Linked DNA regions of Homo sapiens: region 2 is linked to region 1. A link means that fine-mapping ties the variant in region 1 to the expression of a gene that starts in the linked region. Tissue or cell type: lymphoblastoid cells. Region 1 holds a variant in brackets; the other region holds the start of a gene. All regions are shown on one strand. Distances are between the middles of the regions.

Region 1 (4,269 bases):
TGTGTTTGGCTGAAAAATGTCCCCCAAAGATGTCAGGCCTGAATTCTTGGAACCTATGAATGTTGCGTTATGTAGAGACAGGGGCTGCATATGTATTTAAAGATCTTGAGAGGGGAGATGATCCTGGATTGTGCATGTAATCACATGTATCTTTACAAGAGGGAGGCAGGGACAGATGTGACCACACATAGGCAGAAAAGGAGAAGGTGATGTGACCGTGGAGGCAGAGACTGGAGCTGTGCAGTCACAAGTCAAAACATGCCAGCAGGCCGGGCGCAGTGGCTCATGCTTGTAATCCCAGCACTTTGGGAGGCCGAGGCAGGCAGATCACCTGAAGCCAGGAGTTTGAGACCAGCCTGGCCAACATGATGAAACCCCGTCTCTACTAAAAATACAAAAGTTGGCTGGGCACAGTGGCTCATGCCTGTAATCCCAGCACTTTGGGAGGCTGAGGCGGGTGGATCACAAGGTCAGAAGTTCAAGACTAGCCTGGCCAAGATAGTGAAAACCCGTCTCTACTAAAAATACAAAAGTTAGCCAGGCATGGTGGCAGGCGCCTGTAATCCCAGCTACTCAGGAGGCTGAGGCAGGGAATTGCTTGAACCTGGGAGGCGGAGGTTGCAGTGAGCCAAAATCACACCACTGCACTCCAGCCTGGGTGACAGAGTAAGACTCCCTCTCAAAAAAATAAAAAAATAAAATAAAAATAGGCCGGGCGGGGTACCTCACGCTTGTAATCCCAACACTTTGGGAGGCCAAGGGGGGGTGGATCACGAGGTCAGGAGTTTGAGACCAGCCTGGCCAATATGATGAAACCCTGTCTCTACTAAAAATTTAAAAATTAACTGGACGTGGTGTTGCACGCCTGTAACCCCAGTTACTGGGGAGGCTGAGGCAGGAGACTGGCTTGAACTCAGGAGGCAGAGGTTGTAGTGAGCTGAGACGTGCTACTGCACTCCAGCCTGGGTGATAGAGCAAGACTCTGTCTCAAAAAATAAAAAAATAATAAAATTAAATTAAAAATAAAAATACAAAAATTACCTGGATGTGGTGACATGCGCATGTCATGCCAGCTAGTCGGGAGGCTAAGGCAGGAGAATCGCTTGAACCCGGGAGGGGGAGATTACAGTGAGCCAAGATCACACCACTGCACTCCAGCCTGGGCAACAGAGTAAGGCTCCGTCTCAAAAAAAAAAAAAAAAAAGCCAGCAGCCACCATAAGCTGGAAGAGGCAAGGAATGAATTCTCTCCTGGAGCCTCCAAGGCTTGAATTTGGCCCAGGTATGGATTTCATGCTTCCGGCCTCCAGAAATGAGAGAATCTATTTGTCTTACTTTAATATTTCTCTTATCTCTTGTTTTAAGACACTGAGTTTGTAGTAATTTGTTACAGTGGTGATAGGAAACTAATACAGAAAAAAAAAGCCCAGTCTCTTGAAAGAAGTTGAGCCATATTGGCCGGGCGTGGTGGCTCACACCTGTAATCCCAGCACTTTGGGAGGCTGAGGCGGGTGGATCACCTAAGGTCAGAAGTTCAAGACCAGCCTAGTCAACATGGTGAAACCCCCGTCTCTACTAAATATACAAAAATTAGCCGGGCGTGGTGGTGGGCGCCTGTAATCCCAGCTACTCGGGAGGCTGAGACAGGAGAATCGCTTGAACCCGGGAGGCAGAGGTTGCAGTGAGCCGAGATCGCGACATTGTACTCCAGCCAGGGCAACAAGAGTGAAACTTCATTCCAAAAAAAAAAAAAAAAAAAAA[G/AG]AAGAAGCTGAGCCATAAGGCTGTCAGTGGGAGCCAATTTAAGAATAATCAATACTGCAGACCACTGAGGGGAAGGGTGGAAGGAAATTGAGTATTTGGAGACATTGTTGAGCTGCTGGCTCATACTGATCCTGAAGCTATTCTGGCTAACTCTCCAGGCATGTGAGTAAACATTATCTGATGACGTGGGTTAGCTGCTACCAGCCCAGCAAGCATCCTGACTCATAGCACAGCAGTGGCAGAGGCATTTGTTTTGTCTTTGTTTGGAGACTGTTTAAAATGGCAGCATAAGTCCTTTGGATCCCATCATCCCATCAGCTTGCATATAGGTCTTCTTTCCTTCTTTCTTTCCTTCTTTCTCTCTTTCCTTCTTTCTCTCCTTCTCTCTTCCCTCCTCTCTTCCCTCTATTCTTCCCTTCTTCCTTTCCTTTCCCTTCTCTCCCCTCCCCTCCCGTCTCCTCTCCTTTCCTTTCCTTCCTTAGATGGACTCTCACTCTGTCGCCAGGCTGGAGTGCAGTGGCGCAATATCGGTTCACTGCAACCTCTGCCTCCTGGGTTCAAGTGATTCTCCTGCCTTAGCCTCCCGAGTACCTGGGACTTCAGATGCTCGCCTCCATGCCCAGCTGATTTTTGTATTTTTAGTAGAGACGAGGTTTCACCATGTTAGTCAGGATGGTCTCCATCTCTTGATCTCACGATCCGCCCACCTTGGACTCCCAAAGTGCTGGGATTACAGGCGTGAGCCACTGTGCCCGGCCAGCTTGCATATAGTTTTAAAACTTTTATTTATTTCTTTCTTTATTTATTTTTGAGACAGAGTCTCACTCTGTCGCCCAGGCTGGAGTGCAGTGGCGCAATCTCGACTCACTGCAACCTCCACCTCCTGGATTCAAGCAATTCTCCTGCCTCAGCCTCCCAAGTAGCTGGGACTACAGGCGTGCACCGTCTCACCTGGCTAATTTTTGTATTTTTTTAGTAGAGACGGGGTTTCACCATGTTGGCCAGGATGGTCTTGATCTCCTGACTTCGTGATCCGCCCACCTCGGCCTCCCAAAGTGCTGAGATTACAAGCACGAGTCACCACGCCCGGCCGTTTTAAAACTTTTAAAATTAAAGTTTAGTCCAGTCACGGTGGCTCACACCTGTAATCCCAGTACTTTGGGAGGTCAAGGCATTAGGATCACTTGAGATCAGGAGTTCAAGACTAGCCTGGCCAACATGGTGAAACTCTGTCTCTACTAAAAATACAAAAACTAGCCAGGTGTGGTGGTGCTTGCTTGTAATCCCAGCTCCTCAGGTGGTTGAGGCAGGAGAATCACTTAAACCCAGGAGGCAGAGGCTGGAGTGAGCAGAGATCACACAACTGCACTCCAGCCTGGGCAACAGAGTGAGACTGTTGTCTCAAAAAATTAATTAATTAAATTAAAGTTTATATGTAACCTTTATATACATAAACTATATAAGCTTTAAACATATATATACACATAAACATATATATAGGCATAAAGTCCTCAACTTCACAACTTGATGAGTTTTTTTATATATGTCTAAATATATAAATATATAATGTCCATATATAAAAATCCATCACACAGGTCAACAGAAAATATATTTCCAAAACCCTGTACCACTTCCTGGTTAATATCTCCCAGAGTTAACCACTATCCTGATTATCATCATAAGTTTTTTTTCTGTCCTCAAACTTCATATAAATGGAATCATATAGTCTATGGTTTTCTGTGTCAACATAATGTGTTAGAGATTCATCCAAGTTGCTGCATGTATCAGTAGTTAATGTTTGGTAAATTGCTGAGTAGTATTCCACTATGGATGTACCACATTTTGTTTATACATTTTATTATTGATGGACTGCTGGGCTGTATCCAGTTTTGGCCCCTTATGACTAATGCTTCTATGAGTGTCCTTTTAGATGTCTTTTGGGGACATGGCTCATACTTCCATTGTAAGAAATTACTATTATGTTCTCTTGGGCAGTTTTTCCAGAAAGAATACAAATTTTGAATGCTAACAGGTCTGAAAATGCTTACTCTCTCCTCATATGTGTGAATGATATATTTGCTGAGCATCAAATCCTGAAATCAGAGTCTTTGTGTTTCTGGAATCTTCACTTATCTTCTAGTGTCCAGGGTTTCAGAAGAGAAACCAATGCTGCTTATACATACCCTGTGCTCTTTGTAAGGGATTTGCAATGAAACTTGTGAAGTTTGCACTAGTTTTGGAGTATGGGTACTTCACCAGACTATGATGTCTTTTTAACCCTGCCAAGACATTGGACATGCCCTTAGAAATGTGAAGATACGTACAACTCATTTTTTTTATTTTTTTGAGATGGAGTTTTGCTCTTGTCACCCAGGCTGGAGTGCAATGGCACAACCTTGGCTCACTGCAACCTCTACCTCCCGGGATCAACTGATTCTCCTGCCTTAGCCTCCCAAGTAGCTGGGATTACAGGCATGTGCCACCACACTCAGCTAATTTTTCTATTTTT
Region 2 (4,269 bases), 20 kb after region 1:
GGATTACAGTTGTGAGCCACCGCGTCCGGTCTCCGACTGTTCTTTTAACCAGATACTGTTGGACTTTTCTCCATATGATCTTTAAGTTGTTTTATTCTGTGAGCTGGGGGCGGGGGGAGTCTTTGAATTGGAATTGCTATACTTTTGTTTAGTAGTTTTGTGAAGATTTTTTTTTTTTTTTTGAGACCGAGTACTAGGATTGCAGGCATGAGCCACTGTGCCCAGCCAATTTTTATATTTTTAGAGATGGGGTTTCACCATGTTGGCCAGGCTCATCTTGAACTCCTGACCTCAGGTGATCCCCCCAGCCCGGCTTCCCAAAGAGTTGGAATTACAGGCATGAGCCACTGTGCCTGGTCTGATACGGCCTTCATGGAGAAATTAAAAAAATACTTTCCATTCAGGAATAATATGTCAGTGTGTTCTGAACTTAACTTCAGGTCTGTTAATGAGGTTTTTGTATTTTCTTCATGAAGATCCTTTATTGCTTTTGCTAATTGATTTCCAAGTTGCTCCAACCATCACTATTGTGAGTGACAATTTAATCACTATTATGGCTTAGAATTTTTTTTCTAATTTTCATTTCAAAATTGTGAAGTATTTCAACCTGCGGAGAGGTTCGGAGAGTAATAGAATAATCTATAAATAATAAAGATGACACCCATGTATCATCGAGATTTTACCTGTGTTAACATGTAGTCAGATTTTCAGGTTTTGATTTGTTTTTTCCTATCAAGCATCACAGGTGTAACTGAGGTCTCCTTTGTCTCCTCCCCAACTCTTTCCCCTCAGTTGCCACTTTCTTGAGGTTGGACAATCTATCTGGTCCATGTTATTGTTACTTTACTACTTATGTATCAATCTCTGTATAACATATAGATTTTGTGTCTTTTATTTCCAGGTAAGTTGTATCATGTGGATAAGTGCACAGTTTACTTTTCGAACTGTTTTTGGAGAACTGTCTATCTTGTATATAAGTTAGTCCTTTTTTTTTTTTTTTTTTTTGAGACGAAGTCTCCCTCTTGTCCCCCAGGCTGGAGTGTGATGGTACGATCTCAGCTCACTGCAACCTCCGCCTCCCAGGTTCAAGTGATTCTCTTGCCTCAGCCTCCCGAGGAGCTGGGATTACAGGCGCCTGCCACCACGCCTAGCTAATTTTTGTATTTTTAGTGGAGACGGGGTTTCACCATGTTGGCCAGGCTGGTCTCAAACTCCTGACCTTAGGTGAGCCCAGTCCGTTTGTTTTAACCACCCCCTATTGCTCCGTTGCACATACCACAGTTTCTCTCTTCCCTGTCAGTAAATATTTAGGCTTCCCCATGCTAAAGTTTAAGAGAACCACTGAAAGAATGAAAATGTGTAGTTTTCATTTTCAACCGGCTATTGTTACTACAGAGGAAAGTTACTGGCTTTGTTTACATTTCTTAGATCTAGTCATTTTAACAAATTAGGCCTCCCAAAATGCTGGGATTACAGGCGTGAGCCACGCACCCAGTAAATAATTATATTGCCAATGAATAATGAGTGTACTTATTCTGAATTTTAACATTATTATCTCAAAAAAAGATTATAGATAAAGAAATATTTTAGGAAATTATGCAGTAAATAAAAGGAAGGCTCTATAACAAAAGAATGATAGCATCGGGTTAAAAATCAGAGGAGACCATAGGAGAAAGTAAATGCCTGCGCGTCCGCCCCGAGGCAAGTCCACGCCAGGGTAATGAATAACCCGGTACCCGCGGCCGCCCCAGCGTTGGGCGGGGGAAGCTCGGGGACTCCGCGCACGCGCACATCCTTGTCCCGGCAGCCGCGCAAGCGCAATCGCCCGGAACATGGCTGCCGCCGGCCGCCAACCGTAAGTGCCGACGCATCCCTGAGCCCTGCGCTGCCTCCGTTTCCTGCGGAGGGAAGTCTTGGCGGGTGGAGGTCCGCCGGGTCCTTGTGGGGCGGCGAGGGGCGCGTCCGCGGGTGGGTTTCACCTGGGTGGTGGGCATGTCGGGCCCGCTAGGGCGAGGGTCTGGCCAGGGGCGTAGTTCTCCTGGTGGGTGGGGACGCTCCGTGGCGATTGGGGTCACTCCTCTGAGGACGAGGTCGCTCCGGGGCTGGTCTGGACGCCCCCGCTCTTTCCTTAGCGTCACCCGTGAGTTCCGCGCTCGCATCTCTAGCCCGCCCTCCCATAGAGACTGTTTTGCCACGCCTGCTGGGTGTCCTGGTCCGTCTCCGGGGGTAACCCCCGAGTCTGCAGCTTTTCTGTCAGGTGTGAGGGGCAGTGTAGGCTTGGGTCGGCCTCCGGCTGAATTGGCGGCCGTGAGCCAGTGGGCTGAGCCGCTTCCCCTTGAGTCTCGAAGGTGTTAGATCACCTGTGTGTTTTTCCATTTGATATTTGCAAAATCATGTTTTACTGCAATTCTCAGTGAGGGCCGCATTTTTGCACGTGTTTAGTGACCATTTTGCTGTCTTTTCCCTTGGTTTAGTGGCATATTTCCTTTGTGCAGTCTTCCAGTCTCAATATTTTATGACATAAAATGTTGGTTTAGATAGAGAAGCTGAAAGACTTGTGCAGTGAACGACCCGGTTAACGTCTGCTGAACTTACTGTATCCCTTATCTTTCCTTCTGTCCATCCTTTCAGCCATTCATTAATCCACCTATTTTTGGAAACATTTCAAAGTAAGTTGCAGATATCACAACACTTCTCCCTCAAACACCTCACTATGCTTACCATGAATTAGAGTTCAGTAGTGCTTTTTTAAATTTTTTGAGCCAAAATTGACTTTCAGTGAAATGCACAGATATTCCCTGTACCATTGATGAATTTTGACAAATGCAACCTAAACCTTTATTAAAATTACCATCAGCCTGAAAAGGTCCTTTATTTTTTGCCAAGTTAAAAAATTTGGCTATAGGAACTTGGGCTTGTTGAAGTACGTTTTGAATACCCAGTTTTTGTCTGTTTTTTCTTTTTTCCCACAGCAAGTGACTTTCCTCCATTCTACTGCTTGTTTACCTCTCTCTTCACCCAACTTTTCATTTTGAAAAGTTCCGCATTTGCATAGAAGTTGCAGGAATAGTTTAACACTTCTAAAACCATCCAGATTCTAAAATTATTAACACTTTTTGCCACATTAGCTTTATCTTTATCTTCTCCCTGCCTGAGACACATGCATAGGTGTTACCAGAAAGGGGGTCCCGAGCTATAACCCAACAGAGGGTTCTTATATCTTGGGAAAGAAAATTCAGGGCGAGTCCATAGAGTAAAGTGAAAGCAAGCTTATTAAGAAAGTAAAGGAATAAAAAAATGGCTACTCCATAGATAGAGCAGCCCCAAGAACTGCTGGTCGCCCATTTTTATGGTTATTTCTTGATTATATGCTAAACAAGGGGTGGATTATTCATGCCTACCATTTTTAGGCCATATAGGGTAACTTCCTGATGTTTCCATGACATTTGTAAACTGTCATGGTGCTAGTGGGAGCAGGACCAGAGGTCACTCTCGTTGCCATCTTGGTTTTGGTGGGTTTTAGCCACCTTTACTGCAAGCTGTTTTATCAACAAGGTCTTTATGACCTGTATCTTGTGCAAATCTCCTGTGTTATCCTATGACCTAGAATGCCTTAACTGTCTGGAAATGCAGCCCAGTAGGTTTCAGCCTTATTTTACCCAGTCCCCATTTAAGATGGAGGTTTGCTTTGGTTCAAACGCCTCTGACATAGGGTTTTCTTTTTATATTTTACACACACTTGTACACACAGCAGGTGTTGCAGAGGCAGGTGTGATACAGACATATATTTACATACACTTAGTTTTTTTGGCTGAGTTACTGGAAGTATGTTATAGATATCATACCTCACTCTGAAATACTTCAGCCAGGATCTCATAAGAAAAGTAACGTTCTTATTTTTTAATTTTGTATTTTTTATAGAGATGAGATCTCACTATGTTGCCCAGACTGTTCTTGAACTCCTGGTCTTAAGCAGTCCTCCTGCCTTGGCCTCCCAAAGTGGTGGGATTACAGGTGTGAGCCACCACACCCAGCCAAAAAGAACATTTGAACATTTAAACAAAACTAGTGTTATTATCACACCCAAGTATACTTTTTTTTTTTCAAAAAACTAATTGTTTTTTATTTGTAATTTTTTTTTCCTGCCAATCTGAACCTGGAAAAGAAGAAACAGGGAAATTTTTTACCTTCCTCTCTTTTTTTTTTTTTTTTTTTAATTGATCATTCTTGGGTGTTTCTCGCAGAGGGGGATTTGGCAGGGTCATAGGA

The links. PIP is the estimated chance that this variant, and not a neighbour inherited with it, causes the effect. A credible set is the group of variants that fine-mapping cannot tell apart.
Region 2: ZNF329 starts here. The variant in region 1 is the best candidate, but not a certain one, in a credible set for the expression of ZNF329 in lymphoblastoid cells (TwinsUK, PIP 0.55).

The regions. Positions count from the first base shown.
Region 1 is chr19:58,168,778-58,173,046 of GRCh38, reverse strand. All of the region lies in intron 1 of LOC124904784 (a long non-coding RNA gene), which reads right to left. Among named protein-coding and RNA genes, the nearest start is that of ZNF274, 12 kb to the left of the region's middle. The variant G/AG (reference allele first, on the strand shown) is at 1,761.
Region 2 is chr19:58,148,338-58,152,606 of GRCh38, reverse strand. ZNF329 (zinc finger protein 329) reads left to right here and starts at 1,818. Exons shown (of 4, transcript NM_024620.4): 1 at 1,818-1,855. RefSeq lists an enhancer at 1,682-1,741.